Homo sapiens: one gene and its partners. The protein of the gene in region 3 purifies or fractionates together with the protein of the main gene of each other region. This does not show direct contact. Each region holds a gene or a part of one and is shown on either strand. Other genes may lie near its edges.

What was found.
Region 1: the proteins of ALX3 (region 3) and UBN2 purify together in Homo sapiens (affinity purification with mass spectrometry; 2 studies listed by BioGRID and IntAct, with this or other methods). This does not show direct contact.
Region 2: the proteins of ALX3 (region 3) and ENO2 purify together in Homo sapiens (affinity purification with mass spectrometry; one large-scale study listed by BioGRID and IntAct). This does not show direct contact.
Region 4: the proteins of ALX3 (region 3) and P3H2 purify together in Homo sapiens (affinity purification with mass spectrometry; 2 studies listed by BioGRID and IntAct, with this or other methods). This does not show direct contact.
Region 5: the proteins of ALX3 (region 3) and FTO purify together in Homo sapiens (affinity purification with mass spectrometry; 2 studies listed by BioGRID and IntAct, with this or other methods). This does not show direct contact.
Region 6: the proteins of ALX3 (region 3) and ARK2N purify together in Homo sapiens (affinity purification with mass spectrometry; 2 studies listed by BioGRID and IntAct, with this or other methods). This does not show direct contact.
Region 7: the proteins of ALX3 (region 3) and IKBIP purify together in Homo sapiens (affinity purification with mass spectrometry; 2 studies listed by BioGRID and IntAct, with this or other methods). This does not show direct contact.

The regions. Positions count from the first base shown.
Region 1 is NC_000007.14:139,229,363-139,234,256, reverse strand, and holds the start of UBN2 (ubinuclein-2), read right to left. Parts: upstream 3,021-4,894; 5' UTR 2,773-3,020; coding exon 2,305-2,772; intron 1,837-2,304; exon of another isoform or gene 1,800-1,836; intron 1-1,799.
Region 2 is NC_000012.12:6,917,312-6,921,419, reverse strand, and holds part of ENO2 (gamma-enolase), read right to left. Parts: intron 3,840-4,108; coding exon 3,706-3,839; intron 3,481-3,705; coding exon 3,258-3,480; intron 1,855-3,257; coding exon 1,657-1,854; intron 1-1,656. UniProt on the Homo sapiens protein: Has neurotrophic and neuroprotective properties on a broad spectrum of central nervous system (CNS) neurons. Binds, in a calcium-dependent manner, to cultured neocortical neurons and promotes cell survival.
Region 3 is NC_000001.11:110,067,612-110,072,629, forward strand, and holds the start of ALX3 (homeobox protein aristaless-like 3), read right to left. Parts: upstream 3,062-5,018; 5' UTR 3,002-3,061; coding exon 2,725-3,001; intron 1-2,724. UniProt on the Homo sapiens protein: Transcriptional regulator with a possible role in patterning of mesoderm during development.
Region 4 is NC_000003.12:190,113,952-190,118,250, forward strand, and holds part of P3H2 (prolyl 3-hydroxylase 2 isoform a precursor), read right to left. Parts: intron 1-4,299. UniProt on the Homo sapiens protein: Prolyl 3-hydroxylase that catalyzes the post-translational formation of 3-hydroxyproline on collagens. Contributes to proline 3-hydroxylation of collagen COL4A1 and COL1A1 in tendons, the eye sclera and in the eye lens capsule.
Region 5 is NC_000016.10:53,710,380-53,714,678, reverse strand, and holds part of FTO (alpha-ketoglutarate-dependent dioxygenase FTO), read right to left. Parts: intron 1-4,299.
Region 6 is NC_000018.10:46,180,252-46,184,550, reverse strand, and holds part of ARK2N (protein ARK2N), read right to left. Parts: intron 1-4,299. UniProt on the Homo sapiens protein: AMPK substrate important for exercise capacity and skeletal muscle function.
Region 7 is NC_000012.12:98,634,393-98,638,691, forward strand, and holds part of IKBIP (inhibitor of nuclear factor kappa-B kinase-interacting protein), read right to left. Parts: intron 22-4,299; coding exon 1-21. UniProt on the Homo sapiens protein: Target of p53/TP53 with pro-apoptotic function.

The DNA of each region.
Region 1 (4,894 bases), on a different chromosome or scaffold from region 3:
TAAAATCTTATTTAGTGATAGATGGCTATTTCAAAAATGTGGAGCCCTTCCTTTTCTAATTCTTCTAATTTTGGGAACCACCAACTTTCCAGACCAATTCTAATGTTCGCATTTTGCTTTTTGATGGTCTCTCTTCTAGGATTTCCTTTCATGAAACCATGACAATTTTACTTAAACATATGTTTTCTATGCTTTCTTGCATAATAAGGATATACACTGGCAGCAATCACAGGAAAATGTGGCAAATCTTTGTTGCAAAGGTGATTATATACAATGGATTTTGTTTTGTTCAGAGGTATATGAAAAAAATAGAAGGTTGATATACGAGATAATTGGGCCAATAGACACCTATACTGTTAATAAGTATACAGAAAAATTAAATGGAATTTTTCCTCTTTCTCCTATTGCATGAAAGTAGTAGTTCTGGTGTTATCAAGTTAACAAAGCTAGGGTGTCAAACCTTTTTCTTTTTATAATTAAATGATACACATTATTAATTTGCCATCGTGTGAATATTACAGCATAAACAGAGACATAATAAAGGTCTTTGTATTTCTACTGCGACTTACATTTTACGTCATTTTGGCAGAATCCTCTAAACTATATGAGTTAATTTTAAGAAATTTTGTTTTACTAACAAATTGTATCACTATGGAAAGAAGTACTAATAAAATTACATACATTTGTAAAGTGAGGATAATAGTTTTTACCTCGTGGAGTTCTGTTGGACTACTAGAAAAACCATGTGCAGTGCTTAGAACTGTGTCTAGCACACAGTAAGAACCAGTAAATGTCGTTATTGCTATGTATTTTTATCCAAAGATAATGCTTTTCTCCTGTAATTTATGAAAATTACAAAAACTGCAAACCAACTTAGATTAGCAGCTCAAATACAATGTTTGAAAAATGCTCCAATCCAATATTTTTAATATTCTTTTGGGAAAAAAGTGACCTCAGATTTATAAAGAAGGGGCATTCAAGTGAGTCTGACGAGCAAAATGTTAGGTGGAAGTGACCAAAATGATCTCTACCTTTAAACAATTCATTTTGGTTGAAAACATTTTGTAATGATTTGACCACATAACATTTCTAAATAATGATCAAAACATTAGCTGGCCATGAAGTAAACAAAACCTAGTGAAATTGTTCAACATGATACTTTGTGACTAAGCAGTCAGTCATTTTGACCATAAAGGTAGTTGAAGATGAAAACAAAACAAGGGACTTCTGGAGTCCATTAGACTCAAGCTAAAGCAAAACCTAATAACGGGTATAATTGCTAAGCAACAGAGAAAACTGTTCTCTTTCCTTACTGTTAATCTATCATTTCCTTTTCTAACTTACTTCTGAAGATCCACCAACCCACAACAATAAAAATTACAATTACGAACATAACCCCTATCCTTTCTCCATTGTTCACCTCTTACATCAAAAGCATACCTATATATTTTCAATTATTTTAAAAAATTCAAAGCTGACATTTTTTTCATCATCCTCCGAAAATTACAAAGGCTGAATACAATATCCTTCTATAAACTAATGATAGTACACTTAAATAATATGACGGGTAGGTGTCAAATAAAACAGGAGACACCTTCCCATTCAATTACAATATGAACGAACTCCACAAAAAAGGAAAGCTAAAAAGGTTTTCCAATACCAACACGAGAGAAAAATTAGTAACCAGATTAACTAACCCACTTCTCCATTCCTAAAGTGGGATCCTTAGTCTCTGAAAACCTTTAATTATTCTTAAATTCCCTTCGATTAAGAAAAATATCACAGGCACGCAAGCACACCTCAGCAGCCACGGCGCCCAGCAAAACAAACAGTGATGAGGATGAGGATGATACGAGAGGGGTTACACAATCTCTGCTTCAGACTGGGGGGCGTGTCCCCCAAGGTTTTCTCTTCCTTTCTACTGGAACGACAGCTGTAGCGCCACAGGGAGAACCCAGCCACACGGCCTGCAGGGCCCCAGGATTTTGTGTGGGGAGCAGAAAGGAAAGAAGGAAAATCTGAGGTTCCGAAAGGTGCACAAGAAAACGAGCTCGGCGCGGCGTTGGGAGCGAGTGCCGGGGGTTTGGGGATTCGGCGCAGCCGGGTGAGAGCCTCGGCCACCCTGGGGAGTGGAGAAAGCAGCGCTCACCGCCCCGTCCACCCGCTCGGCCCCGGCCCCCCGCACCCCACCCTCGGGGCGACCCGGACGCGCTCGGTGGGCGTCCCAAGGTGCAAACCAGCTGGGGAAGGCGGCGGGTCCTGAGGCTCCCGGGGTCTGGGGCAGGAGGGAAGAATCTTCTGTACCCGTTGTTCTCCGCACAGCAGCAGCTCCGGGTAACTGAACTCCACGCAGCTCTCGTCGGTGGGGTCCTTAAGCACCAGCTCCAGGCGCACCGTCTCCCTCGGCGGCCGCGGCGGCTGCTCAGCCCGGGAAGCCGACTCCCGCGGCGGGGGCGGCTGCAAGGGCAGCGGCGGGAACGGCGGCGGCGGCTCGGGCCGCGGGGGCTCCCGCTGCAGCGACATGGGCGGCTCGGCGCGGCTGACCTCGCGCTGGGGGAGCGGCTTCTCCCGCGACGGGGGCTGCGCGTCCGAGCGGGGGGCAGGCTCCCGCGGGGCCGGCGGCTCCGCCCGGGCCGGCTCGCGGTACGGCTGCGGCTCCAGCCGGGGGGGCTCGCGGGGGTACTCGGGCTCACGCTCGGGCCCCGGGTACTCGGCCTCGCGCCGCCGCACCGGTGACAAGCTAATGAACGCTACTCTGCGCGGCTCCGCCATCCCCACTGTTCTGGCCCTCCGCTTTTGCTCGAGCCGGCGCTCGCTTCTACGGCGCGCTGCGTGCCTGCCCGCCCTTCCTCTTGCTCTCTGTCGCTTTTCTTCCCTCCACCACCCTCAGCCGTCTCCGCCGGCGCCACGGTGAGTGCGGACCGTGTCCCCTTCCCCGCTACTACGTTCTGATGGGCTTCACCGCCATCGCCAGGGTCGCCGCGGCCGCCATGTTGGATCCCCCACATAAATAGAAGCAGGCCGCTGAGCGGGCGCATGCGCACAGAGGAGACGCTCGCGTCCACTGTCGTGGCTGTTGCTCAGTTTTCCTCTTTTCCTCCCAACAGTCTGGAGTCCAGACAGGTCGGCGGAAGTGACGACATGGCTCGGCCTGTTTCCGTGGAAACGGAGACGCCGTCTGCACCCTTCCTCAAAGGGAGGGTTCTGGGGTTTCCCGAGCAGTTTACTATTCGCACCCGGAAACCAGAGGCGCTCCAGGAGCTTCCCGGGGCTAGCATCGGGATGGGACTGAGACCGACCTAGCCATTGGCGCCGGGTCTCCCGTGCTGGGTTCAAGGGAATTGGGGTTGTTAGCTGATTATTCAAGGCGGACTCTGGGCAAGGGTAGAGAGACGCGCCAGCCGTTGTGCCTGCCCGCCCTGTGTCCCCGTAGCCTTAAGTATCGAGGGAAAAAAGGAAGTGCCCAGCTTCAGCCAGACTAGCCCCAGCGGCTTCCCTCCCGAAAGCGCAGGCCTCCCCTTCCTCGACCTACTCCGGTTTCCCTCGCCCGGCCGCAGTGGGCGTTGCGTGGGGCAGGGTCATTAAATGTTCAATAACGCTTTGCAGTTGGAAAATTAACAAGCAGATGAGGAGTTCTGGGCTCATTCAGAAGGCCTAAACTGCTGAAATCATAGAAAACTTCTTAAGAGGGTTTAGTGGTATTTCAGGAAACGTACTGTTTATGAGAATGCTAAAGGACCCATTTCAGGATGGGGAAGGAATTGATTGGGCACGCCCCATAGGCTCACTTGTAATTAATTAATTGGAAGTCGGGTTTAAAAGGATAAGAATTACTGGCCATTTTAATCCATTGAATAAAAAGTAAATTTGAGGGCTCGCCCTTCACATCCTGAAGGGAATCCAAGCCTTCTGTTAATTGCATTAACTATTGAAAGCTCTTTTATTAAGTCAGTGTGACGTCATTGACAAATTCTGAGAGGGTTCCGTTTTTTCCTCTCCTGTTATTACTTTCCCTACTTGGACGAAGATGGTGATGAAATCTATGATTCCAAAGGTCTCTCCCAGCTCTAAAACCCTATCTTTTCTACTCGGCGCCATGTTTTACCTACATTATCTCCTTCCCTATTGCTCCTTTTCTGATTCTGAATTCGGGTCTCATTTTTAGATTGCCTTAGTGATACTTAAATGACCTTTCTGCCTTCAGTCTCTGTTCCCACCAGTCTTGAGACGGGGTCATATTAATGTCTCTAAAAGAGTTTTTATTATATCGTTCTCTGTTCTGGCTGCAACTTACCTACAAACTGAGTTCTATGTATGTATACTCATATTCAATATCCTCCACAATTTAGCTCAGAGACTGCAAACTGGTGGTCTGTGGGCCAAATCCTTCTACAGGTGTGTTACTTATCCAACATTATCTTCTAACTTCTCACCCACTGAGTTTTCCAACTTTTTGATCCATAACCCACAGTAAGACATTTTACACTGTAACCTAGAATATACACCCATATATACATAACACATATGTGCATATGTGAAATATAAGTTTCACAATACTTACCTACTGCTTAGGATAAAGTAAAAGCAACAGACGCAACAGAGTTAATTTAATATAAAATATTTTATAATACAGTGTAGAAAAAAATGTTAACATCATATAGAAGCAAATTAGGAAAGATTTTATTTAATGCCATGGAAGTTCTTGCCTGATCATAGGTTTATTGCACTCCAGAATTCATTAGGACAGTGGTACATGAACATCTGATCCACTGTGGTGCCTGATCTTTTTCTTCTTCTAAACTGATCAAAATTGAAAACCCTAGTTCAGATATATAGGCAGTCATGAATAGTAATAATGCGTATGCATGTTCTGCATAGTAATAAATTCTTCTTT
Region 2 (4,108 bases), on a different chromosome or scaffold from region 3:
AACTGATTCTTAACTTTTTTTTTTTTTTTGACAGAGCCTCATTCTGTCATCCAGGCTGGAGTGCAGTGGCACAATCTCAGCTCACTGCAACCTCCACCTCCCCAATCAAGTGATCCTGCCACCTCAGCCTCCTGAGTAGCAGGGACTTTAGGTGTGTGGCACCACACTCAGCTAATTTTTAAAATTTTTGTAGAGATGAGGTCTCACTGTATTGCCAGGCCAGTCTCGAACTCCTGGATTCAAGCAGTCCTCCTGCCTCGGCTTCCCAAAGTAATGGGATTACAGGCATGAGCCACCACGCCTGGCTCCTGATTCTTATTTCATAAAACCTTACATGGAGAGGCCAGGCACAGTGGCTCATGCCTGTAATCCCAGCACTTTGGGATACTGAGGTGAACGGATCACTTGAGGATAGGAGTTCCCTGGCTAACATAGTAAAACCCCATCTCTACTAAAAATACAAAAATTAGCCAGGCATGGTGGTGCACGCCTGTAATCCCAGCTACTTGGGAGGCTAAGAGAATCGTGCAGTGAGCAGAGATCTCACGCCACTTCCATAGGCTGGGCACAGTGGCTCATGCCTGTAATCCCAGCACTTTGGGAGGCCGAGGCATGCAGATCACTTGAGCCCAGTAGTTTGAGACCAGCCATGAGCAACATGGCTAAACCCTGTCTCTACAAAAAAAAAAAAAAAAAAAAAAAGTTAATTAAAAGCAAACCAGCCAGGCGTGGTGGCTCACGCCTGTAATCCCAGCACTTTGGGAGACCAAGGTGGATAGATTACCTGAGGTCAGGAGTTGGAGACCAGCCTGACCAACATGGAGAAACCCCTGTCTCTACTAAAAATACAAAATTAGCCAGGCATGGTGGCACATGCCTGTAATCCCAGCTATTCGGGAGGCTGAGGCAGAAGAATCGCTTGAATCCGGGAGGTGGAGGTTGTGGTGAGCCGAGATGGCGCCATTGCACTCCAGCCTGGGCAAGAAGAGTCAAACTCTGTCTCAAAAAAAAAAAACAAAACAAAAAAAACAACCCCACCCCCCCCCCAAAAAAAATCTTCCAGTAACAAGGGTTCACAACCTAGCTTTGCATTTTCCTGTTCTCACTGCCAGCAAGCCCTTCCTCATTGCTAATCCAAATCCTTAATTCTGCAATTATGTTGATTTTCTTTCGCTCTGTGTCAGGAAGATGGCGACCAACTGCCTCCATCCTGAGATAAAGGCCCTGGGCAGACTTGCAGAAGCTAATTCAGTCCCCCTCAGCCTTCTTTCTACTCACACATCAGTCCCAGCTCCATTCAGCATCCACAATTTCATCAATCAAAGATACTGAAATGTTCTAGTTCTCTGCTAGATCCAGTCACACTCATATCATCCCTGGTTCCTTCCAGAGCCTTCCCCATGACCCCAGTAGTTTTCAGAACCCATGACTTTAATCAGGATCTGAGACAGAACAGATTGGTCACGGGTACCTGCATTTTTACACTACATACAAAGCCCAGTCTTTGCAGGTGGCTCCTGCACCCTCTCCCTGGTTCTCAGGTTCTTCTTAGGACACCCCCACCTGGTGCCTGAGTCAGCACCCCATAAGGTCCAGAGTTGCTGGGACACGTCCCTGCCTGCCCCCAGACCTCCCCCTCACACCACTTCCTCTCACCAGGATAGTCCCTGACAAAGTCCTGGTAGAGTGCCCCCAGCTGGTCCCCAGTGATGTATCGGGAAGGATCAGTGGGAGACTTGAAGTCCAAGTCATATTTGCCATCACGATAAAACTCTGAGGCAGCAACATCCATGCCAATAACGATCTTTTCCGTGTAGCCAGCCTTGTCGATGGCTTCCTTCACCAGCTCCAAGGCTGGGGACAGAATACAGTGAGATTATAGTACAAGCAGGAGGGATGGGCAAGGAGGAGGAGGGAAAGAAAAGACATTCAGGGCAGAGGTGGAGGGCTGTTCCTGAGGGAAGTGTGGCGGGGATGCTGTTGGGGTTATCCCCAGGTCTGGGAGGAGAGGCCATCTTCTAGGAACACAGAGGAATGGAATTCTCTTAATAATACTTACTATACTTTCATTGGTATCATGTCATCTAAGCATTTTATATATATTTCATTTAAGCCTCACACTACCATGAGCTAGATTCTGTTATTATTTCCAGAGAGAAGTAAGAAAGTTCACCAGCAGTAACTCCACAAGTCAAGGTTCAAATAAATCCAGGTTATTTGGCCCCAGAACCTTAACTCTTAACCACTACCTATATTCTTTCCATTCCCTATACAGTTTCCCCCAAGGCACAGAAAAATTAGGGATTCTAGAGGCCTAGGAGGTTGGGACGGGGACAGGACAGATTTCGAATGGATGGGATGAATCCAACAGTCATCCAGACCATCTCCCAGTATTCCCAAGGGCTCCAGTGACAACTTTTTTTTTTTTTTTTTTTTTTGAGACGGAGTCTCGCTCTGTTGCCCAGGCTGGAGTGCAGTGGCATGATCTCGGCTCACCACAACCTCCGCCTCCCGGGTACAAGCGATCCTCCTGCCTCAGCCCCGCTAGTATCTGTGATTACAGGCACACGCCACCATGCCCGGCTAATTTTTGTATTTTTAGTAGAGACGGGGTTTCACCTTGTTGGCCAGGCTGGTCTCAAACTCCTGACCTCAGGTGATCCACCCGCCTCAGCCTCCCAAAGTGCTGGGATTACAGGTGTGAGCCACCGCGCCCGGCCTTCCAGTGGCAACTTAACAGATGCTAACACATCTGGCTAGGCAGGTAAAAGACTGTCCCCTGGCCAGGCGTGGTGGCTCACGCTTGTAATCCCAGCACTTTGGGAGGCCGAGGCGGGCCGATCACAAGGTCAGGAGTTCGAGACCACAGTGAAACCCTGTCTCTACTAAAAAATACAAAAAATTAGCCGGGCGTGGTGGCGGGCGCCTGTAGTCCCAGCTACTCGGGAGGCTGAGGCAGGAGAATGGCGTGAACCCGGGAGGCGGAGCTTGCAGTGAGCTGAGATCGAGCCACTGCACTCCAGCCTGGGTGACAGAGCAAGACTCCGTCTCAAAAAAAAAAAAAAATACTGTCCCCCTAGGTCTGCATGTGAATTTGGCAGGCTCTCTGCAATCCACTCTAAGAACTGGTACCTTTTGGAGTTTGCAGAGTCCTAGGACCCTCCACGCCTACTCAGGACTTGGTGAACTGTGTCACCCTTTCTGATGTCCCACAATAGGGTAAGACTTAGAGCTGGGAGTGGGGCTCCTGGCCTCACCTTCACTGTTCTCCAGGATATTGGGGGCAAAGCCACCTTCATCCCCCACATTGGTGGCATCCTTGCCGTATTTGTCCTTGATGACTCCCTTGAGTGTATGGTAGACCTCTGCACCTAGTCGCATGGCATCCCGAAAGCTCTCAGCTCCCACTGGGAGGATCATGAACTCCTGCATGGCCAGCTTGTTGCCAGCATGAGAGCCACCATTGATCACGTTGAAGGCCTGGGGAGCCACAGAAAGACAGAAGGGTCAAAGAGCCCCTCCCTGCCCGCCCCAGGAGTGTTAACCCAAGATCCCAAACTTCCCCCAGCTTTCCGGACTAAGTCTCACGTCCCCATCCTTCCTCTTTACCTCCCTCAATTCACTTTCCTCCCATCATTCCTCATGAGTTGCATGCTCCCTCCCCCACCCGCCCCTGGGAGAGCCGCAGGCTGGCTTATTGCTCACCGGCACAGGCAGGATGAGGTCTGAGTTCCCGGCCAGCTGAGCAATGTGGCGATACAGGGGCAGTTCCCGCTCAGCTGCCCCTGCCTTACACACGGCCAGAGACACACCCAGGATGGCATTGGCCCCAAACTTGGCTAGGAGATTATAGAGGAAGGTGCTGAGCACAATGTCCCCTTCTCCTTTCTAGCTCCTGCCTCCATCTGTAGTCTCCAAAAGGAGCCAGTAAAGGAGACCCCCTCCTCCCTCCCCACCCCTGCCCCAGCAACACCTCATCCATGCTCTCTTGAAAACAGCAGGGAGAGGAATGGGTGGGGAGGAGGAGATTGGAAACGGCAGAGAGCCACACCTCTTTCTAAATATCCCTGAGACCACAGACTCTCTCAGGCCATCCCCCTCCTCTGTA
Region 3 (5,018 bases):
CCACTGTCCCCACAGAAGGCATCCATTGAGACCGCGGGACCAGCCTTGGCTTTCACATTTCGCTGCAGCCTTGTCCCGCGCCGCACTGTTTCCTCCGGCCACTGTGGGGTCACTAAGCGACCTGCAGAACTCGCTGAGGCCCAGGCTCCTGCAGCTCCCGCCGAAGACTCAAAGCCAGAGTGGACATAAACGCCGTGGGCAGGACCCCGGTGAGGCCTCGGTGCCCTTCTTGGGGGTTCTCAGCGTTGGCCCAGAAGCCTCAGCCCGGGTCTAAGAACTTGGGACTCTCCTCGACTTTGGCGATCGGCCGGGTCATCCGGCTCAGGGCCTCAGCGGCAGCGGGCAAAACTCTAGTAGGAGTCTCTTGCCGAGGGCGTGTTTCGACGTCAGAGCCAAACTCGGGACAGACTAGCCAAGCGCGGACGGCGCGAGAGTGGCTGGCAGCGCCAGCACGCAGCCTGGGTTCAGAGCAAGGCTGGGCGCTCTCAGCAAAGGGCGGCCTGGGGCTGCGCGGGCGGCGGACTGCAGGCGGGAGAAGAGCGAGGTGCGCCAGGCTCTGGGGCGCGCAACTGCCCAGCCTCGTGAAAGATCGCGCCGCAGATGGGGCGCAGCTGCGCGCTCACTCGTGTGGACTGGAAACGCTCCGAGCCGGTTATTTTAAAAACCGGGAAATAAGGCGGGTTCCCTCTTCGCCCGCCACTTCCCACCAAGTAGGCTGTGCGGCCCTGGGGGCTGACTGTCCTCAAGCAGCCAGGCTCCACCGCGCGCCGCGCTGCGCCGAGGTCCGCTCTGCCGCAGGGACGCTGGCAGCCCGTTGAACACCGGCAAGAGCGCCAGAGGCTAGCGGCCGCCAGGATCTCTACCAGGCTCTGCTCGCACCCGCCTGCCTCCCTTTCGTTTGGCCTGTCCTCCGTTCAACTGAAATCGTTAATTTTCTTACCCCCTTGTTCTCATTTTGATATATTCTACGCTTTAAACATGCTCCGTTTTCTTTTGTTTAGTCTGCTCCCTCCCTCTTTGTCCTTTCCCCCTTCTCTAGTTATCCGTTTCGTTCGATCTTGCTCCTGCTTTTTTTATTCGTTCGTTCCTCATTTATTCATTTTAGTTCATCCCAGCTCGCCGACTGCCATTTACCCTCTCGTTCTCGCCGCGCTCTCCGTTGTTTTGTTCAATTTCCCTTCCCCTTTTCTTGGTTGTCGCTCGCTTTCTTTGGTTTTCTTTCTCGGTATTTCGTTGTCAAGGCCACCCTTGCCGTCGGATCCCGGGGTGCTGGGTTTCTCCCGGCCGCTCGTTCCGCACCAGCGCTCTCTGCAGTTCGCGCGGCACCGGTGTGGTCCGGGGGCCCGAGCTGTCGGTGCCGGATGCGGCGCGCCTAGCAGGGACGCGGGCCTGGGGGGGTGGCTCCTGCCCGACGCGGAGCGCTGAGCCAGGCCGGGTACCTGTCTCTGGCGGTGCTCACCGCACTGCGCGGCCTCTGCCGTCTGGCTGGGATCAGAGGAGCCAGGCCAACTGCTTCTCATTAAGTCCCAACTGTGGTTTTTATCAGGAAAGCCTCTTTCAAAGGGCACAGACACGAAGCTCCGCGGACTCGTTCATTTCCTCCGTTGACCCACACACACCTCCCCGCCCTCCCCTACACATTCCCACCGCCCCGGCTGGGCGAAAGCCGGAGATGCCCGGCCACTCCGTGGAGGCCCGCGAGGCGCCAGCCGGGCGGCGGCAGGGGGTTGAGGCGGATCTTGGAGGATCCAGTTCTGGGCCTAGGCTGCGGGATATGGCAGCGCAGATAAGGTGGGTGCAGTGCGGAAGCCGAGACGCCTTACAGGTCATAGGGTGCGGCGGACGGCCGCAGAGCTGCCGATCAGCCTGCCAGGCCCCTGCCTTCAGGCGCATTCTCGGATGCCGGCGCGGTCCAGCCGGCCTTAGCACAGGGCACCGGCCCGTGAGCCCGCGGCGCCAGGGGGTTAGGCTGCCCAGGGCTGCTCCTGACTGCCCAGCGGTGATGATCCAGCGCGGGGAAGCCAAGACTGCCAGAAGGGCGGCTATCATAGTGCATAACGGCAGGGAGGCCAGCTTAGTATGAGAAATAAGAATACAGTTATTCCGTCTTGAGGACAGCCCTGGCATTGCACGACCAGTCGCGGCCAGACTGTGCCAGTCTGCCGCACAGGCAGCACCCTTCCTGTGAAGGCTAGGCCCGGGGAGGAGAGACGGGCCAAGACCAGGCCGCAGTCCCCAGCCGACCCCGATTTGACCACTCTAGGTTGAGGCCCAGCCTCAGGGCCCTCAAAGGGCGCCAGACACAAAAGCCGCGCTTCTTCGTCAGGTCTCAGTGTGGCTCCACAGCCCTCGGCCGGGTCTGGGCTTCAGGGTAGGTGGCAGTTCCAGTCCAACTTCGGCAGAGCATGCTCTCTCCTTCCCAGGTCCAACTGCTTTCGGGCCCCGACTGGACTCCGGGCCGTCGCCACTGCACCTTCCCTCGACCTCCCGCCTTCCATTCCCGCCGCCGAGGAACGGTGGTTCACCCTCCCGCCCCACACTGGCCTTTGCCTGGCCCGGGCCAGCGCCAACCCGGCTTCCGTGGAAGCCGTGGCGAAAGGCGAGAGGGGCAAAAAGTTGAGAAATAGGCGAGCGGGAGAGATAAGCAGGAAGGCCCGGGTGGGCCCGGGTAAGGAAGAAGAAGAGAGGGTCGGGCTGCGCGCTACGCCCCGCGCCGCGCGTTACCTTCCGCGGGGCCCTCGTAGAAGTGGCCGCCGTTGAGGGCCGGGCCGGGCCCGAGGTCCTGCAGGTACTTGGCGGGCGGCTTGGCCGGCTCTGGGAGGTAGGGCTCCAGGGGCCCGCAGGCCGGAAAGCGGGTCAGCCGCGGGCCGCGGGGCGGCGCGGGGTGCAGGTGAGGCGCAGCGGCGGGGGTTCCCTGCGGGCCCGGAGGCTCGTCCCCCGAGGCCACATAGGGGCCGGGTGCAGGCCCCACGCGGAAAGGCGCGCAGTGCTCGGGGTCCATGCCGGCTCAGGGCGCACAGGCCTCCGGGGCTCCGGGGCTCGCGCTGCCCGCGCCGCCTGTGAGCGCCCGCCAAGGGGGAGGGACCTGGGCGCGGGGGCGCGGAGCCCCCGGGAGCGGCGCGCGCCGCGGGGGGCGGGGGGCGGGGGGCAGGGGAGGGGGCCGCGCCTCTGACTTAATGCTGGAACCATCCACGTCACGTGTGGCCCCGTGCGGGTTAACCCCTCGGAGCCCGGGAACCCCCTCCCCCCATTCACCCAGAGCCCAGTCCCAGGCAGCTCAGGAGAGGATGAAGCAGCTTCCTCTCTAGGGCAGGATCCCTTTGTCTACCCATCCAGGTGAGTCTCTTGCTCAGAGCAGCACCCGTGGTCCTGATATCCAGCCTAGAGGCACTTGCCCCTAGAGGGGTGAGGCCGTGTGGGCATCCCCCCCAAACACTTTTGGGCCTGGACTCTGGACATCAGCCTGGGATGAGGGCCTGGGCGGGCAGACAGGCAGGCCTTAGGCTGCAGTTTTACTTAGGTCTCCGCTAGGAGCTGGACAAAATGTTGCCTCAGCAAAAAACACCTCCCTTAGAGATCTCTTGTTTCTCACAGTGAAAGGAGCTATTGGGAGTGTTGTGTGGAAGCAGATCTAAGCTGGGAATGGGGTGCTGGGGAGCTTGGACCTGGACACTATCATTAATTAGCTATGGTTCCTTGCGCCAATCATTAGTGTCCTCATCTGACTGTGGAGGTCGGGCCAAGCCAACCCTGGGTCTTTCTATGTATTTGAGGTGTGTTTCAGAAGTAGAGACAGGGCCAGAGCAGACAGGGAGACTCCCATGGGCAGCTCAGGACTGAACAGTGTCCTGCAGGGGCAGCCTTTGGAACAGGTGGAGGATGAGCAGAAGGGCTGGTGTTTCCTCTGGCAGCAGCTTGGAGTGAATGCGTTTCAGTGGGCAGATGACCCAAGTGTCTGGGGACCCACTGGAGAGACTGTCTGCAGCTCGGACCTCAGGGCTGTGCTCCCCCAGGCCTGACGATTCAGAAGGGATGAGGGTAGAACTGCATCTTCTAAGAGCTGAGTCTCCCCAACCAAAAGGAGACAGGATTAGAGCAGTAGCTTAGAATTTCAGAAAAGAGAAATAACCACCACCCTACCTAAGATCTGGGGAGAAATACCCAAGGACCCGAGGACCCTGCTCACTTCCCATGGATTGAGGAGCCCGTGGGGCTGCGTTAAACTGTTTTTATTATCAATGCCCCCGGAGACTAGCAAGAGAGGTGGGGAGTCAAACATCATTTGTATTTCATTTGAATTCTCAATTTTTAAAGGAATCCAAGAGGCCTGGTGTGAACACCTCCCTCTTCCGCTGGGGGCTTAGAAGGGGTTTCTTGGCTCCTCAGCCAGAGTTGGGCTGTAAATCAAGACCAAACAGGAACCAGAAGCCTTGCATCTCACAAGGAGTCATTAAGCCGTTATTAAACATACCATAACTTCTCTGAAGACTTATTGGTTTCAACACCACCTTGGAGGCATTATGGCCATTAGGGCCCCTAATCACGGAATGCAGACTGGCCAGAGAGATGGGAGCACCTGGGGCTGGTATTTCTAGTCAAGAGGGAGGCTCGGCTTGAAATTAAGCTTCCCTTCTGGCCTCACCAGAGGGATCCTTTCTCCAGGATCTAGTGGATCCAGCTCTGGGCAACCAATTTGAACCGATCACCTTTGCCCATTAATAAGGTTTTTCAATAGTTGTTGATTGGATATTGTTTTCTTTTCTCTCTTCCCCATACCTGCGAAATTGGATATTGTTGACTTTCTAGGAGGACATCAATTTAGGATACCTATTCTATTCAACAGTTATCAAGAAGTTTACTATGGAGGATGAAAATATCACCCAGGAAAATGTCACCAACAATTTAAACAAGGCAGCCTGGATCAAAGGCTGAGTCTTCTGCCTCCCATGACAACCTTGCTGAGCCTCAGTTTCCTCATCAGAAAGGTGGGCCACACATGGAAGTAGGGTATTTGCAAA
Region 4 (4,299 bases), on a different chromosome or scaffold from region 3:
CGCCTGTAGTCCCAGCTACTCGGGAGGCTGAGGCAGGAGAATGGCGTGAACCCGGGAGGCGGAGCTTGCAGTGAGCCGAGATGTCGCCACCACACTCCAGCCTGGGCGACAGAGTGAGACTCCGTCTCAAAAAAAAAAAAAAAAAAATGGCCAGGAAGGAATCCCTGATTAACCAAGCTGACTAACCATGGGAGAATACTTGCAAGCAATTGCTGCCCTCATCTAATTATTATTATTATTTTTTTTTTTTGAGGCGGAGTCTTGCTCTGTCGCCCAGGCTGGAGTGCGGTGGCGCCATCTCGGCTCACTGCAAGCTCCGCCTCCCGGGTTCACGCCATTCTCCTGCCTCAGCCTCCCGAGTAGCTGGGACTACAGGCGCCTGCCACCACGCCCGCCTAATTTCTTTTTGTATTTTTAGTAGAGACGGGGTTTCACCGTGTTAGCCAGGATGGTCTCGATCTCCTGACCTCGTGATACGCCCACCTCGGCCTCCCAAAGTGCTGGGATTACAGGCTTGAACCACCATGCCCAGCCTCATCTAATTAAATTTTAAGCCTCTGTGGCACTTATCACTTATACGGGCAATAGATGACTGGTAAGGAGCTGACCAGGCTTTCAGATATGGGACAATCCCAAGGAGGAACAATTGTGATTCTAATTCCTTAGCACACGGGACCTAAAATCTAGCTAGATGAACAATCTCTCAGGTTTTCTTCCTAAGGAGTGAGACATAAAGATGGTGACCTGTAAGTTTTGATGGTTTAAGCACAAAAAAGTGTTCAGTTGTTAAAGAGAGGGGGGAAAAGCTTCATCTTTTGAGGAAATAACCATTAGAACAATTTCATAACAGCTATTTCAAGAAGATATGAAATCAATCTTCTATTTGAAATAATTTGCAGATAAAATATACATATTCTACAAATAGGTAAAAATAATTTAAATATGAAATTCAGGAAAGCATTTTTATTCTAAACTAATAAGATCTATATGATGCACTTGTCTGGGTTTTCAATTTCATTTTAAGGCATGCATTATAGAAAGAGATAGCAGTTGATAAAACAGAGTAAGAGTGAGGAAATTCCTAGAGTTTACTTTGTTTTCCCCTAGGAACCACTAATCAAATAGATTATGGTCAAGATAAAGGAAGTTCCAAGAGGACTCTAGGACCAAAATAGAATTGTCTAATGTAATTGTGTCTTTATTTTTCCCCTTCCTTTTAATCCTAATCAAATAGATTATGGTCAAGATACAAGAAGTTTCAAGAGAGGACTCTAGGACCAAAACAGAATTGCCTAATGTAATTGTGTATTTATTTTTCGCCTTCCTTTTAATCCTAAGAAGAAAAACAAAGGTCAAATGGAACAAAGCAACAACACAGAAACAAAACAAGCAGGGGCAAGCTTGTTTTGAGTAGAAAAATGAATAAATAAACAGCATTTTTTTTTCCTTTTTTTAAATGGTTGGGAAAAGTGGGAGAAAAAAAAAAAAAACCAGACACTGTCAAACCATTCCTGATTATAAAGGACACAGATAAGAAAGAAAAGTATCCCTCATGTTTGTTTAAATTCCAGAATTGTGCATGAAACAGGTACAATATGTCAAGGGTATTTTGAAGTATAGTTTTAAGTAATAAGAACTAAAGAAGAAAAAGTGGGGTGGGAAAGGGGGTGAAAGTTTGCAACATTAGCCAGAACTTGTAAGTAGAAAATAGTGAGAAGTCAGGCAGTCAACAGTCCTGAAACGTTCTCTTCCAACTGACCAGCCAGGAAGCCAAACAACTAAAGTGAGAAAACCTCCTGCCACCATGCAGAAATCTTCCTCAACAACATTTCATATGCATGGAACCAAGTTATTATTCATTCAACAAACATACACTGAACCACCCCCTGTTTTAGGTATTTGGAGGGAAGATGGTTGTGAATCACCCAACTCAGACCTACTGAGCCTGTATCTGTAATTTTGAATCACATTTTAAAGCCCCTGATGATTAATAATAATTATCCATTTAGTAATCATCCAAATCTGGGAACCTCTGCTTTAGGAGATACAAGAATCACTAAGACAGTTCTTGATTTCAGGAAGCTCACCTAAGTAATAACGAAATTATCACTTTTTCCAAAACAAGGTTAAAAATGAAAAATGACAGAAGAGGAACAAAATTGTTACTGTGGGAATTCAGAAAATGGAGAAATGGTATACTTTTGGGAGTTGTAGATGGAGTGAAGGAAGAACTCACAGAAATAGGTGCATTTATATGTTAGGATAGTTATGATTTGAACATGTAGAAGAGGAAGAGGAAAGGTCTACTATTTTAACTAATAAAAAGAATAAATGTATCTCCAATGGTTACTGAGAATCAGGCCCTATGCTGGGTGCTTTACATCACTCATCTCTTAAACTTAACTTAAAATAGGAACGTAGGCCCCATTATTTCCCCATTTTGCAGATGGGAGAACTAAAGCTGAAAAATCTTATGGAATTTGCTGACAGTCACACAGATAGAGACTGGGAAAACTAAAAATTAATCCCATATCTATCCATTCTAAAGCCTCTACACCTCCCAAGAAAGACTAAACAAGGCCAAGAGATGCAGAAGTGTCAGGCATAAGACAAAGCACTCATTGTTACCTTTGGCTGGAAGGCGGCAGAGTTGGGGAAGATAGGACTGGGAAGGTTGAGAGGGAGCCAGGCTGTGGATGCTATGGTAACCTATTTGAGCTTTATATGGTAGCAAGAGGAAGTCCACTGAAGGTTTCTGAGCAGAGAATGCAATGATAAAAGCTATATATTACGTCTTAGGCTATGAATCATGGGTTATCTCTAACAATCTTAAATGATAAAAATCAAAAGTTTGAAGAGTCTCACACTGCCTTTAAACAAAAAGTATGGCTAGGAGCCACGTGAAACTACTGCCTCATAGCTGTCTAGGCAAATTCCCAACATGCCAGGCCTTGAAAAAATTCAACAGAGCAAGGCTCATGAAAGATGTAGTGAGTATCTGTTACCCTGCAAGACAAGGATATACTCATCCCTGGAGCTGTCCAAATCTGGCATAAGGATAGCCCTGGGGTATGCAGCATTCTCTGGGACCTGATGTGAACCTACAGGCCAGTGGGCACAGGAAAGCTATCGGAATCAGTTATTGGAAGAATCCAGACTCCTGACTCCCAGCCCTGTGCTCATTTCAACAGATCATTTGGTATGCCACTAAATATGTGACACTGAGCAAACCTCTTTACCTTTCTATTAAACATTTAGAAACATCCCTTTCCTCATCTGTGAACCAAGAAATTGAACTCATTGGGTCTCAGATTTCATGATTTTTCATCCTTCTTCCCCTCCAACACACCAGCACAAATAATCTGCTTTCATCGGAGGCCCACTCAGCAGGATTTGGGGGAGCAGTAACATCTCCTGAGAGCTTCTATAGTTGGAAAATCTCTTAGCTGAGAATAATTGTACTTTCTTAGCTTTATGAAGCATTCCAGTCCTCCCTCACTGAATTTGATCTAGTCCAGGATTATCCTTTTAAGTGCAAACTGGATCACTGATGTCAAAAGCAATTAAACAATACAGGGCACCATGACCATATCCAGTCACATGGCAGGGAGTTCCTCATCCTAACATCAGGGAATCAATGCCCTAGAATCCAGACCTGTCAGAGCTCCAGGATGTTCTTTTATTATTTGAGAGGTTTTTTTTTTTTTTTTCAGTCTCAAAAGATGGTGTGTGTGCGTATTCATAAGTGAAATTCCAAGGAAGCCAAGCAAAGGCTAAAACTGGGGCTTTCTTGGGGGCTGGGGGAGGGGGGTGAAGGGGAGAGAAAAACCATGATGCAGTTTTAGAGGTTCACAAACTCCAACTTTCAAAAACGAATTTCCAAAAGGATAAAATATTTTCTTCTTAAGAGATTATCAATTATGTAGATCCAAGAAACTGCCAGAGAAGAGAAGTAGGGAGAAGACGCAAGACTTGTTCTGCTCTCAGAAATATTGCTGGTAGAACTGAAATGAACACACGAAGCCACGGATCTTTGAAAGAACTTCTTAAACTTCATTAATTCATCAGACAACACCCAGTAATTCACTTACAGAGTGTGACTTGTTCCTGTAATCAATTCACCACAAAAATTTGAGGTATGTTAAACCTATGGCTTCACCTTCTTTGACCTCCAACCAGGGAACCGGAGGGGAAATGACTGACAAATGCTGACATTAACAGTGAAGCAAGCAGAATTCCAGAACCAGGGAAACCCACATATTGAGAGTTACCTCATGGTTATTTGTTTTTATAGGACTG
Region 5 (4,299 bases), on a different chromosome or scaffold from region 3:
TCGCAGCATATTGGCTGCTGATTTGGTGAAAAATTGCACACTATTTACCTAAATAACAAGATTGACATGACAACAGGCTAGAGTCCACATAAACTGTAATGTTTGCATTCATTTGCCCGGTGCTATTCTCATATTCTTAAGCCCAAAAAATGCTGTTGTGCTGACAGACAAAAAAAAAATTTCATCAGCAGAATTTTCCATCTTTGTTTTCAAAAAATGGCAAACTGGAAAATAGTGAGATAATGGACGGCTGTACATAGAAATAGAAAATCCATATTAATGCAGCCTTGAGACTTTAATCATGCCCAATTCAGCAGAGTGAGTTAAGGTTGCAACATCAGCCCATTTTATATTATTACTGGAGAAATGCTGGCCCTTGAGGCTCAGCCTTGAATGATCCAATCACTAAATGAAGGTGCCAAAGGGCAGACTTAGGGCTAATGCAGAAATCAGAGCTCTGAATTTTCTGATCACAAACAATTATGAAAACACTCATGCTCTGGCAACAAATCTCCTCCTCAGAGCAGCTGCAACATAATTTGGTCCTTCAAACTGAATTTTCTACTTGGTTTCTACCAGTTGTAAAGGTCTTAACTGCCCTTTATCCATATGGCAGTTTTTTAACATAAGGGGAGGCATGGTTATCTTGTAAGCAGGTCATTTCCAAAACTACAGAGTAAATAAATGATCAGCATAGCAACAGGACAGATGCTTATAGCAAAAACAAAAATGTACGTCTAATAGTCAAACTCATAGAATCAGAGAGTAGAAAGATGATGACCAGGGCTGGGAGGATGGGAAAGAGCTAATCAAGCGGCATAAAGTTTCAATTATACAAGATGAATCAGTGCCAGAGATCTGCTATACAACATTGTACCTACAGTTTACAATACTTTATTGTACACTTAAAAATGTGGTAAGAGAGTAGATCTTATGTTGTGTTCTTACCATAATAAAATACATTTTTTTAAATGCAAACCATGGCACCAATTCAAGGTTTAACTTTCAAACATGTGATGGCTTAACAAAGAGCATGCCAAGGACAAACGTTTGGAAACAAGCCCCTACCAACACAAATCTTCATCTCTTGAACCTGTTCTAATCCAACCCAAGGAATCCTAAGAATCCTCCCAGTTTACATTGTGAAATCAACCAGTGAGACAATTTTATAAAATATTACAAAACCAGTTTATAATAGAAGAGTAAATGAATGTGCTTAGCAGAACTCTAAATTCACCTTCTCTAAGGTGTGTTTTTCATTAAGGTTCCAAAAGTACCACCTTAACAAAAGTTCCTCTCCTCTAGAAGTTAGAAAGTCACACTTTAAATATAACTTTAGCAAGAAAACTGCCATAATAAACTAACAACAACAAAATACTCTAAATCTGAAAGGTAAACTGGCATTTTAAAATTGGAAGAGAACACTTGAAAACAAGTGTTGACAGTTGCTAAAGTATGTGTTGAACAGAAGAGTCTTGTTTCTCAAAATTAATGCCCACACCTATGGTATATTAATTTAAAATTCATAAGGTACTTAACCATTTTCCATTACTTCTTTCAAATTCCGGTTCCATCTCTCACTATTAGAAAGTCTACTGACCAATAACAAGTGATGCTCTTGGGAATTCATTCATTCATTGTTTGACAAGTATGGAATATCTACCATGTGTCTGGCAAAATCTTAAGGGCTAGGGATAAAATGGTGAATGACAAAACGGAAAAAAAAAAAAAAACATGATCTCTACTTTTTTGGAGACTATCATCTACATGCCAAAATCTGTATCACTAAACTCAGCCACAGTAAATCTCATTAGCAGCCAAGGATCCAGAATCATAATTATGAAGGGTCACATATATCACATAACAGATGCTGGACTCTCTCAACCATTTAATCTTTCTTCACCAGATACTTATTAATGTCTCCTTTGTGGAAGACATCCTGCCAGGTACAATGGAGAGATGAAAAGATGAATTAGACACAAATGCTATCTTCAAGGAAGCTACTGTTTGCTCAAAGTGTCTAAGAGTTTTTTTGAATGGCTAATTTAGTTTTCAAAACCAGTACTAGGAGGGTTAGGAAACAGCCTGGAAATAACAGAAAGCAACAAGAACTCACTGTTACTCGATAGTTTAGCTGGTTAATTTTCAAGTAAGGTACAGTATTAAAAGTGGTTTGGAAACTATGATCAAATACACTAACTCTTCTTCTATTTACAGAAGTCAACTAAACCTCCGAAACAGTGATTAAAGGCTTACCCATATATTGAAGGAGAGATTAAGCAAAAAATAATAATGGATTTCGGGAAGAAGGAAAAAAAACAGAGTAGAATCTGTCAGGTGAGGTTTTCATTTTTCAAGTCCCCTGGTCTTTGGCCTAACACCAAAACTGTCCTATATTTAGTGTCCACTTTAGATAAACTGGTGACATAATCTAGAATGGCCCATAATAAAAGTAGACTCCAAAAGAACCTTCTCAGGACCTCAATAAAATGCCAAATTTGAAATATAAAATAAGGTAAAAATACCCAGTCAGTAAAAACATAAATAACAAACTTTCTTTTGTTGAGTTATTGTTATTATTATTTAGAGACAGGGTCTCACTCTGTTGCCCAGCCTGGAGTGCAGTGGCATAATCACAGCTCACTGTAACCTCCAACTCCTGGTCTCAAGTGAGCCTCCTCCACCTTGGCCTCACAAAGCATTGGGATTACAGGTATAAGCCACTGCATTTGGCCAAGTTATTATTTTTATAACTCAATAAACCTTATCATTTAAAGTTGATAAGACAACTATCACCAAAAGCAGAAGAGTTTTTAAATCATGTTACTTAAAACGGTAGGTTACATATTCTGGATATTTTCCTTCATTGATAAAAATGTACATTACTCAAACAAAATTATTAAATGTTCTTAGGTATATAACCATTTCCATAATAAACTAGTTCTATTTTTAATAGTTTAAAAGATTATCTAACCTAAGCCAGCATAAGAGTCTTTGAAGCTAACTTGGATTTCAACATCCATAGCTTTTTATTCCATGACTAATGAAACAGTTTTAATGTTTCTGAAAAACCCCGTAAGGAATCCCAGGCCTCTCATAAGGATACACCTTTAAACAGATCTTCTAAGGAAGGAATTCCATGACTACTAGGCCATGTTAGATCCTCTTTGCTACCGTGTCCTCCCGTGATAAAACTCACCACTCTGCTGTTGGTACTTACTTACCTTCCATGGACAGCCAGCCAGTTCCATGGGACTGTGTCTGCCATCTTTACCCTGGTGCTGAGTACACTACTCGACACTTAATCAGGTTCCTTATCTGAACCACAGAACACAGAAAATGGTTTGAGTGACTATATTCTCAATTTTCTGAAAGGTGGTACAAAACTAGTACCATTCTGGCTGCATGGGAAATAAGTTAATGGAACCCCATTTGAGAAAATCCACTTGACTAGACACTCAACATAAGTTTACAGAATAAACGTCCTGGGATCAGAATACATATATATATATATACATACAGAATATATATCTACTGGGGTCAGATAGGCAGTAGTGAAGGTGGTGGTGATGATGGTGATAATGATGATGATAACAATGTTTATTTTTACTGTATGCCAGCAATGTTTTATGTGCTATATAATATCTCAATCCCTACCAGAACCATATCACTCCTATTTGATAGATGAGGAAATGGAGGCTCAGAGAAGTTAAATTGCTTGCGCAAGTAAATGAGGGAGCAGAATTCAATCTCAGGAGTCTGCATCTAAAGCTCCACACTACACCACTATATTGTAACTTAAGGGGCAAAACTGGATGACAGCAAAATGGAAAGCACATTTCCCACCTAAAAGGGAAGCCACTATTCAATTCTAGTTAGGAAAATGCATGCCCACTGTTACCAGATACTTAAGTTTTTCAAGAGAGTCAGACACCCAGATCTTTATGTGAAATCCCTCAACTTTTAAATATTAGAAAATAATTCTGAAACAACTTTTAGTTTGTTTGGGCCAAATAAAACTTACCTACAGCCAGGAGGCATATGTGGATTATAAATATGTGACCTCTAGAGGCCCCATCTTTCCTCAAAAATATACATGCAAAAATGCAAAATCTGGGCTGCGCACGGTGGCTCACGCCTGTAATCCCAACGCTTTGGGAGGCCGAGGCAGGTGAATCACGAGGTCAGGAGTTCGAGATCAGGCTGGCCAACATGGTGAAACCCATCTCTACTAAAAATACAAAAATTAGCTGGGTGTGGTGGCACGTGTCTGTAGTCTGAGCTACTCAGGAGGCTGAG
Region 6 (4,299 bases), on a different chromosome or scaffold from region 3:
GGAGTTTCACTATGTTACCCAGTCTGGTCTCAAACTCCTGTATTTAAGCCATCTGCCCACCTTGGCCTCCCAAAGTGCTGAGATGACAAGTGTGAGCCACAACACCTGGCCATAAATTTTGGTTTTCGAGGCCGGGCGCAGTAGCTCACGCCTGTCATCCCAGCACTTTGGGAGGCCGAGGCAGGCAGATCACAAGGTCAGGAATTCGAGACCAGCCTAGCCAACATGCTGAAACCCCGTCTCTATTAAAAATACAAAAACTGCTGGGCGCAGTGGCTTACACCTGTAATCCCAGCACTTTGGGAGGCCAAGGCAGGCAGATCACGAGGTCAGGAGTTCGAGACCAGCCTGGCCAACCTAGTGAAACCCCGTCTCTACTAAAAATACCAAAAATTAGCCAAGCGTGGTGGTAGGCACCTGTAATCCTAGCTACTCAGGAGGCTGAGGCAGGAAAATCGCTTGAACCCAGGAGGCAGAGGTTGCAAGTAGCTGAGATCATGCCACTGCACACCAGCCCGGGTGACACTGTGAGGCTCCGTCTCAAAAATAAAATACAAAAATTAGCCAGGCATGGTGGCACACACCTGTAATCCTAGCTACTCAGGAGGCTGAGGCAGGAGAATCGCTTGAACCCGGGAGACGGAGGTTGCAGTGAGCTGAGATCGCGCCACTGCACTCCAGCCTGGGCGACAGAGCAAGACTCTAACTCAGAAAAAAATTTTTTTAAAAATTTGGTTTTGAAGGACTTCTTTCAATTATTTGCTGGGATTTTGAGTCAGTTTTCCCACCAAGAAGCTGCAGCATAGACAATGCAGACAATGCAAGAACCAAAGATTAGGACTAAAATAAAAAACACTTACAGAAATACAATATAGTAGAAAGAGCCCTTTTCTCCACAGCAACTCATCCCTTCCCTTAATCCTCAAAAGAAAGAAAAGTTTGAAGAAGCTATAAACAAGCATAAAAGACTCAAACTAGGACTGATGAGAGAGGATGCCCCATTCAGAGTAAGGAATTATGAGTAACAAATTAACACAACTGGGCAACGATCACCAACAGCTACTAACATCACAGGGAACCAAATATTATGCACCTACTGATCCAAGTACCATCTATAAAGTATTCCCCTCATCCCCTGCAAAAGAAGCAAGAGAAAGAATATATATTATAGAAACAATCTGATCAAGCTTCTAAATCTAATACCAATTAACTAGAAACCCAGGGGTCAGAGAAAAACGTTTACCACCACCACCACAGAAATCCAAAGGAATGTAACTGCTAAATCCACACTGGGAAAACTTCTTTTGTAACTAATAATCTGCTAGGGAAAAGAAATGGAGGGGGAACCTACAGATTACAAAACAATGCAGAGACCTTATTTGGCTCTTGATCTGACACATTTATGAGATAAGAGGGAAATCTGAACACTGACTATCATATTACATTAAGGAACTCTTCCTTTTTTTTTTTAGTGTGGTAAGTTTTTCGGTTTTCTTTCCTTCAACAGTGAAGCTGACTGGGAAACTGGAGTGCTAAAAAGTTAGAGTACAGAAAGGGAACTCTAATATTAATACAGCTGAATGGATCTGTCCATAATGCACTGAATTTGGCCTACCCGGAACTTAAATATAAATTGTGAGATTGCAACCACCAGAGATCAGCTTTGCTTGCTTGCCAGCCAACTTTTTCTCCACTGATATAAACTCTATAAATAGGTCAAAGGTGATAATGGCTGCTCAAATCACTTCATATTGCAGATATTACTACTTCTGGCATGTACCTGGACCTGCACCAGGGCTGTGAATAAACTAGCATCAAGTAAGAAGCCAAAGAAGTTATCAAATGCAAAAAAAAAAAAAAAAAAAAAGCACTGTGGCTAATGACTCTCTAAAGTACTCAAAAGCATCATCAGTGTAAATCAAGAATAATTTAAAACAGAGGTTCTTTTAATTTTTAAAAATAATTTTTTAATAGAGACAGGGTTTCACTTTGTTGCCCCGGCTGGTCTAAAACTCCTGGGCTCAAGCTACCCTCCCAACTCTGCCTCCCAAGGTGCTGAGATTACAGGTGTGAGCTACCATGCCTGGCCCTAAAACAAAGGTTCTAAATTTTCTCCAAGATTTCTGCCCTGGTCATTTTCTATCTCCTTCAGAAGACAATTCACATAAAGATGGATAACCACATGCCAGGAACTGAGGTCCCAAGATAAAAGCTGCCAAAATTCTCTCCACTATACACACCTTCAGGCTCACTGCAAAGTGCTTAGTTGATTTCAGCAGAGAAAAATAGTAAGAAACCCTTGACACTAAACTGTTGATTTAAGAACAAGCTATGATTCTATGCTAGGTTAAAACTAAGGCAGACAGGATACTGCTTAAAATTTTAACCACATGAAGTTTTTGTTCTTAATACAGAAAGAAAAACAATCCTGTTTTCCTTAAATTTTAGTCCACACCCAACTTCCCTATCCCCGACAATACCTTTCTCTAATTATAAGGCACCTAACAAAATGCAGACTCCAGACATTATTGTAAAGGTCATTTTTTTAAACTAGTCAACTCAGTAAAAAAATAACTTCTACTGGTCACTTTGGTCAGTATCTTGTTTCTCTAATGCTAATTATGCTAATAAAAACTTAATTTCAGCCAGGCACAGTGGCTCACATCTGTAATCCCAGCACTATGAGAGGCTGAAATGGGAGGATCACTTGGGCCCAGGAGTTGGAGACCAGCCTGGCCAACATAGTAAGACCCCATCTCAATCAATCAATCAATCAATCAAAATAAACTTAATTTCTAGACTACCCAAGCACAATTCTAGTTTTTTGTTTTTTTTTGAGACGGAGTCTCGCTCTGTCGCCCAGGCTGGAGTGCAGTGGCGCGATCTTGGCTCACTGCAAGCTCCTCCTCCTGGGTTCATGCCATTCTCCTGCCTCAAACCTCCCGAGTAGCTGGGACTACAGGTGCCCGCCACCACGTCTGGCTAATTTTTTGTATTTTTAGTAGAGACGGGGTTTCACCACGTTAGCCAGGATGGTCTCGATCTCCTGACCTCATGATCCGCCGCCTCAGCCTCCCAAAGTGCTGGGATTACAGGCATAAGCCACCATGCCTGGCACAATTCTAGGTTATATACATTCTTAGGAATGGCTGCTCTAAGTTTTAACAGATTTAATGTTGTTTCTCTCTGAACAACAATCAGAACTTAATACATGAACTTGAATTACAAGCAAATGTATTTTGTAAATGAACTGGCATTACAAAAAAACGACATTTCCCCCCCCACCTCCCGAGAGGGAGTCTTGCTCTGTTGCCCAGAGCTGGAGTGCAATGGCATGATCCCTGCTCACTGCAACTTTCACCTCCCAGATTCAAGCAATTCTCCTGCCTCAGCCTCCCAAGTAGCTGGGATTACAGGCGTGCACCACCACACCCATCTGATTTTTGTATTTTTAGTAGAGACACGGTTTCATCATGTTGGCTAGGCTGGTTTCGAACTCCTGATCTTGTGATCCACCTGCCTCGGCTTCCCAAAGTGCTGGGATTACAGGCGTGAGTTACCATGCCCAGCCCAAAAAACGACATTTAAGTTTCCAGCCTTTTAAAGCTTAGAGATACCAAGAAAAATGCTATTTTCTAATACCTTATTTAAAATGAATTTATAAGGGAAAACACTAGTTCCATACTACAGTTGTTTTGTTATGCAGTACTTTTTTCCCTTATAATCTACTTTCTCTTCTCCACATTTTAGAGCAGGAAGGAAACTCAGAAATCATCTGGTTCACTAGGTTGAGTTCTGTGGGCAGAGACTGCTTGCTTGTTTTGTTTTTATTGTTGTTTTTTTTTTTGAGACAGAGTTTCCCTCTTGTTGCCCAGGCTGGAGTGCAATGGCACAATCTTGGCTCACCACAGCTGCCTCCCAGGTTCAAGAGATTCTCCTGCCTCAGCCTCCTGGGTAGCTGGGATTACAGGCATGCGCCACCATGCCCAACTAATTTTGTATTTTTAGTAGAGACAGTGTTTCTCCAAGTTGGTCAGGCTGGTCTCAAACTCCGAACTTCAGGTGATCCGCCCGCCTCGGCCTCCCAAAGTGCTGGGATTACAGGCGTGAGCCACCGTGCCCTGCCCCAAACTGCTTATTTTATGTGCCCATTACCACCTGGCATGTAAATGCTCAGTAAATGGGTTTTTAATTTAACCAGGTATAAATACCACATATGCATTAAGTCCCTGCTGATAGATTTCCACTTTAGATTAATTGTCACTTAACTAGAAAATACTCATTTAGGTAGGTTTTAAA
Region 7 (4,299 bases), on a different chromosome or scaffold from region 3:
TCTGACTGCTGAAATACAAACCTGGAAAAGAAAAGAAAAATCACTATTCTCCAATTCATATCCATTTAAATCCGAATTTCAAAGGAGAATTATACCCACTTCTGTTAAGAACAACATAAATTCTGGTATGGGTAGCTGTAGGTTTTTTTTTTTTTTTTTTCACACAGGGTCTCACTCTGTCACCCAGGCTGGAATGCAGTGTCACAATCATAGCTCACTGCAGCCTTGAACTCCTGGGCTCAAGTGATCCTCTTACTTCAACCTCCCAAATAGCTAGGACTGTCCATCTCGCTATGTTGCCAAAGGTGGTCTTTAGCCTTTTTTTTTTTTTTTTTGAGATGGAGTCTCACTCTGTCGCCCAGGCTGGAGTGCAGTGGCGCGATCTAGGCTCACTGCAAGCTCCGCCTCCTGGGTTCACGCTATTCTCCTGCCTCAGCCTCCCGAGTAGCTACGACTACAGGCGCCTGCCACCACGCCTGGCTAATTTTTTGTATTTTTAGTAAAGACGGGGTTTCACTGTGTTAGCCAGGATGCTCTCGATCTCCTGACCTTGTGATCCACCTGCCTTGGCCTCCCAAAGTGCTGGGATTACAGGCGTGAGCCACCACGCCCGGTATTTTTTTTTTTTTTTAGATGGAGTTTTGCTCTTGTTGCCCAGGCTGGAGTGCAATGGCACGATCTCGGTTCACTGCAACCTTTGCCTCCTGGGTTCAAGCGATTCTCCTCCTCAGCCTCCCAAGTAGCTGGGATTAAAGGCACCTGCCACCACGCCCCACCAATTTTTTAATATTTTTAGTAGAGATGGGGTTTCACCATGTTGGCTAGGCTGGTTTTGAACTCCTGACCAGTGATCTGCCCGCCTTGGCCTCCCAAAGTGCTAGGATTACAGGCATGAGCCACTGTGCCCAGCCCCAAGGTGGTCTTGAATTCCTGGCCTCAAGTGATCCTCCCCTCAGCCTCCCAAAGCGCTGGGATTACAAGTGTGGGTCAACATGTCCAGCCTAGATGCAGCTTTTATCAGTTTCTTTTGACAGATTTTCATGTGGTAGGTACTGGTTTAACTCATGCAAAGATGAGTAAAGCACTGCCCTTGTTCACAATTCACAGCCCACCAAATAAGATGGTGTGATATCTGTAATAGATGCATGCACAAGAAATATTTTAGAGGAGGACAAAGTGAAAAATTTAGAACAAGATCTTTGATCTCTACTGTTTTTCACAAGGCCATGATTGGGTAATATCTAGAAAATAGGTGTTTTTATGCTGAAATGTAGGCGAAACAAGAGTCGTCTATAAAAAGTATTTTAAAACTGAAATGTAGAAGAGTTGACTGATAAAAAGCAGTGGAGTAGAAGAGAGAAGTGATAGTAATTAGAAGTTGCAAAATAGCAGGAGGTGTGAAAAGAGGTATGAAAATAGAAAAAAGCCATTGCCAAAGTGACAATAGATCACAATCAGTGCAGAGTGTATAAACTGCACAATTGGTTATACTCAGTGATGTGACTCGTATAGGTGTACTTGAGATGTCACTCTAAAATTGGAGTTTATTCTTCATTATGGGTGGAAGCCCAAAAAGCTATCTCAATCTTCAAAACAACAAATCAACATCTGTTTATACAGGATTTGAAATGAGCAAGCATAAAAGAATTGTCTTGGATCCAATACCATTTTGTCTACTTTAACTCAATTCTTTAGGCTCAGAAAAAAACACTTGAAATTCTTTGCATATTGAGTCATCAAAACGCAATGGAGCAGAACCATAAGTACCTGCCTAAACACAGTCCTGAGACAAGTGGTTCAAAAGCTTTGCTACATATTGTAATAACCTGGCAGCTTTAACAAATCTGATGCCTGGGTCTCACAAAGATTCTGATTTAATTGGCTTGGGATGTGGCTTGGATGTTGGAAACTCAACAGCTTCTCAGGTAATCTAAGTGCACAGCCAAACTTAGAACCATACTGACTGACCATGTTTTGTGAAATTCATTTCCACTGAAAGGCAATCATTTAAAGATCCCAAGGATTAATGGAGAGGTGAAAGACTTTTCTGAGTAAATGCAGTTATCTGAACTTTGTGCATCCTTGCAAAAGTGGTAATGCTTTGAATTCATAAATGGCATCATTAGGCTAACCGTAGCTACAAAACTGTCCAAAGCTAAATTAGACAAATGTTTACAATACTGGAGGAAATACATTTCTTTTGATGATGCTGGCTAATTTCTATTATACGGGATCCCAGGTTACATTATTAGCACAGATTGACTTTTCTCCTGTGTTTAAATTAATAGGAACCTTTAAAGCTTCTGGTTATTAGAAAACACTATTATCCTAATTCTCTGAGATGGAAGGGTGAACATAATTCTTTTTTCATTGGCTGTTTCATTTCTGGCTTTTAGGATTTTTTTTTTTTCCCCCAGAGTATTGGATATCTAAGACCAGCAGATAGAGACCTTATTAAGAAAGAGACCACCCTAAAGAAATAAGAGTTGCCCTCCTCACGCCTTCCTGTCCCTCCCTGCCAGGGGGGAAAAAAAAAAAGTAAAAGAAGAAACACAGTTCATTTCAGGGACTAGTTTTATTATCCAATACTCCACCATAGATCTATACTATAGATTAGCGAGTTTATTCAGAATGAAATCATTATTATAAGAGACTTTCGTATGAAGGTTGATTCATTACAAAAAATACATTAATGAACTTTCTCAGAACTTCTTTTCAAATTCAAGCTTTAAACACAACCTGTGTCATGTTAGTGGAAATATCATCTCTGATAATTAGTAGTTTTTTTTGATTAGCCTCTTACTAAAATAAAAAAAAATTCATCCTTGCTACATGTGAACGGTGCATATAAGAAAAAAGTACAAAGCTGACTCAGCACTAGTGATGAAAAAAATGAAGTGATATGTGCTGTGCTGCGTTAAAATATATTTTATTTTTCCCTTATTTGTGCCAGACACTATTCTAAGTACTTGATAAATATTAATTCATTTAACATTAAAGAAGATGATTGATTTTTCTTTCTTTTTGTTTTTTTTGAGATGGAGTCTCACTCTGTCACCAGGCTGGAGTGCAGTGGCACGATTTTGGCTTACTGCAACCTCTGCCTCCCGAGTTCAAGTGATTCTCTTGCCTCAGCCTCCCGAGTAGCTGGGACTACAGGCGTGTGCCAACACACCCAGCTAATTTTTGTATTTTTAGTAGAGATGGGGTTTCACCATGTTGGCCAGAATGGTCTCGATCTCTTGACCTCATGTTCCGCCTGCCTCAGCCTCCCAAAGTGCTGGGATTACAGGCGTGAGCCACCGCGCCCGGCTTTTTTCTTTCTTTCCTTTTTTTGAGACAGGGTCTCGCTCTGCTGCCTAGGCTGGAGTGCAGTGGCATGATCTTGGCTAACTGCAACCTCCACCTCCCAGGTTCAAGTGATTACAGGCGTGAGCCACCGCACCCAGCCTAGATGACTGATTTTCTAGAAGTCAAGAAAATATGCTGAGAAAGCTGCTTCAGATCTGAAAAACTAAGCTTTCAAACTGGCATCCATGTTAGGGTATAAGGTCCTTTATTTCCTTTTTATGAGTCAGGGGCATATTCTAGTGAGAGCAGTTCCCAGTCTTCCCATTTAGATGAGAGTGAAAAACAAGCAATTAGGGTCTGCTAAAGGGTATACCTTCAAGTAGAAGGAAGAAAAGAACTATAAGTAATTCTGGACTTGGGGATTTCTATTTCTAGGATCTTGGCCTTTTGTTGGGGATTAATATCGAATGGAGGCAACGAATCATACTGATTAGGTGGGTGACTGGACTGCCTTAGCTCTGCCATTTACTAAGCTGTATAACCACTTTGGGCAAGTTAAATAACTTTGATGTTTCCTCATCTGTGAAGTGGGGATAATACCTTATTTTAATCTTATTTTTTAAAGACAAGATCTCACTCTATTTCCCAGGCTGGAGTGCAGTGGTGTGATCATGGCTCACTGTAGCCTCCCAGGCCCAATCCATCCTACCCCCTCAGCCTCCTGAGTAGCTGGGAACACAGGCGTGTGCCATAATGCCTGGCTAATTTTTTATAGAGATGGGGGTCTTCCTATGTTGCCCAGTCTTGTCTTGAACTCCTGGGCTCAAGTGATCCTCCTGCCTTGGCCTCCCAAACTGTTGGGATTATAGGTGTGAGCCAGAGCACCCAGCCAATACTTCATAGGGTTGTAGTTTGTTTTTCGACAAGGTCTCATTCTGTTACCCAGGCTGGAGTACAGTAGCCTGATCATAGCTTACTGCAGCCTTGAACTCCTGGGCTCAAGTGATT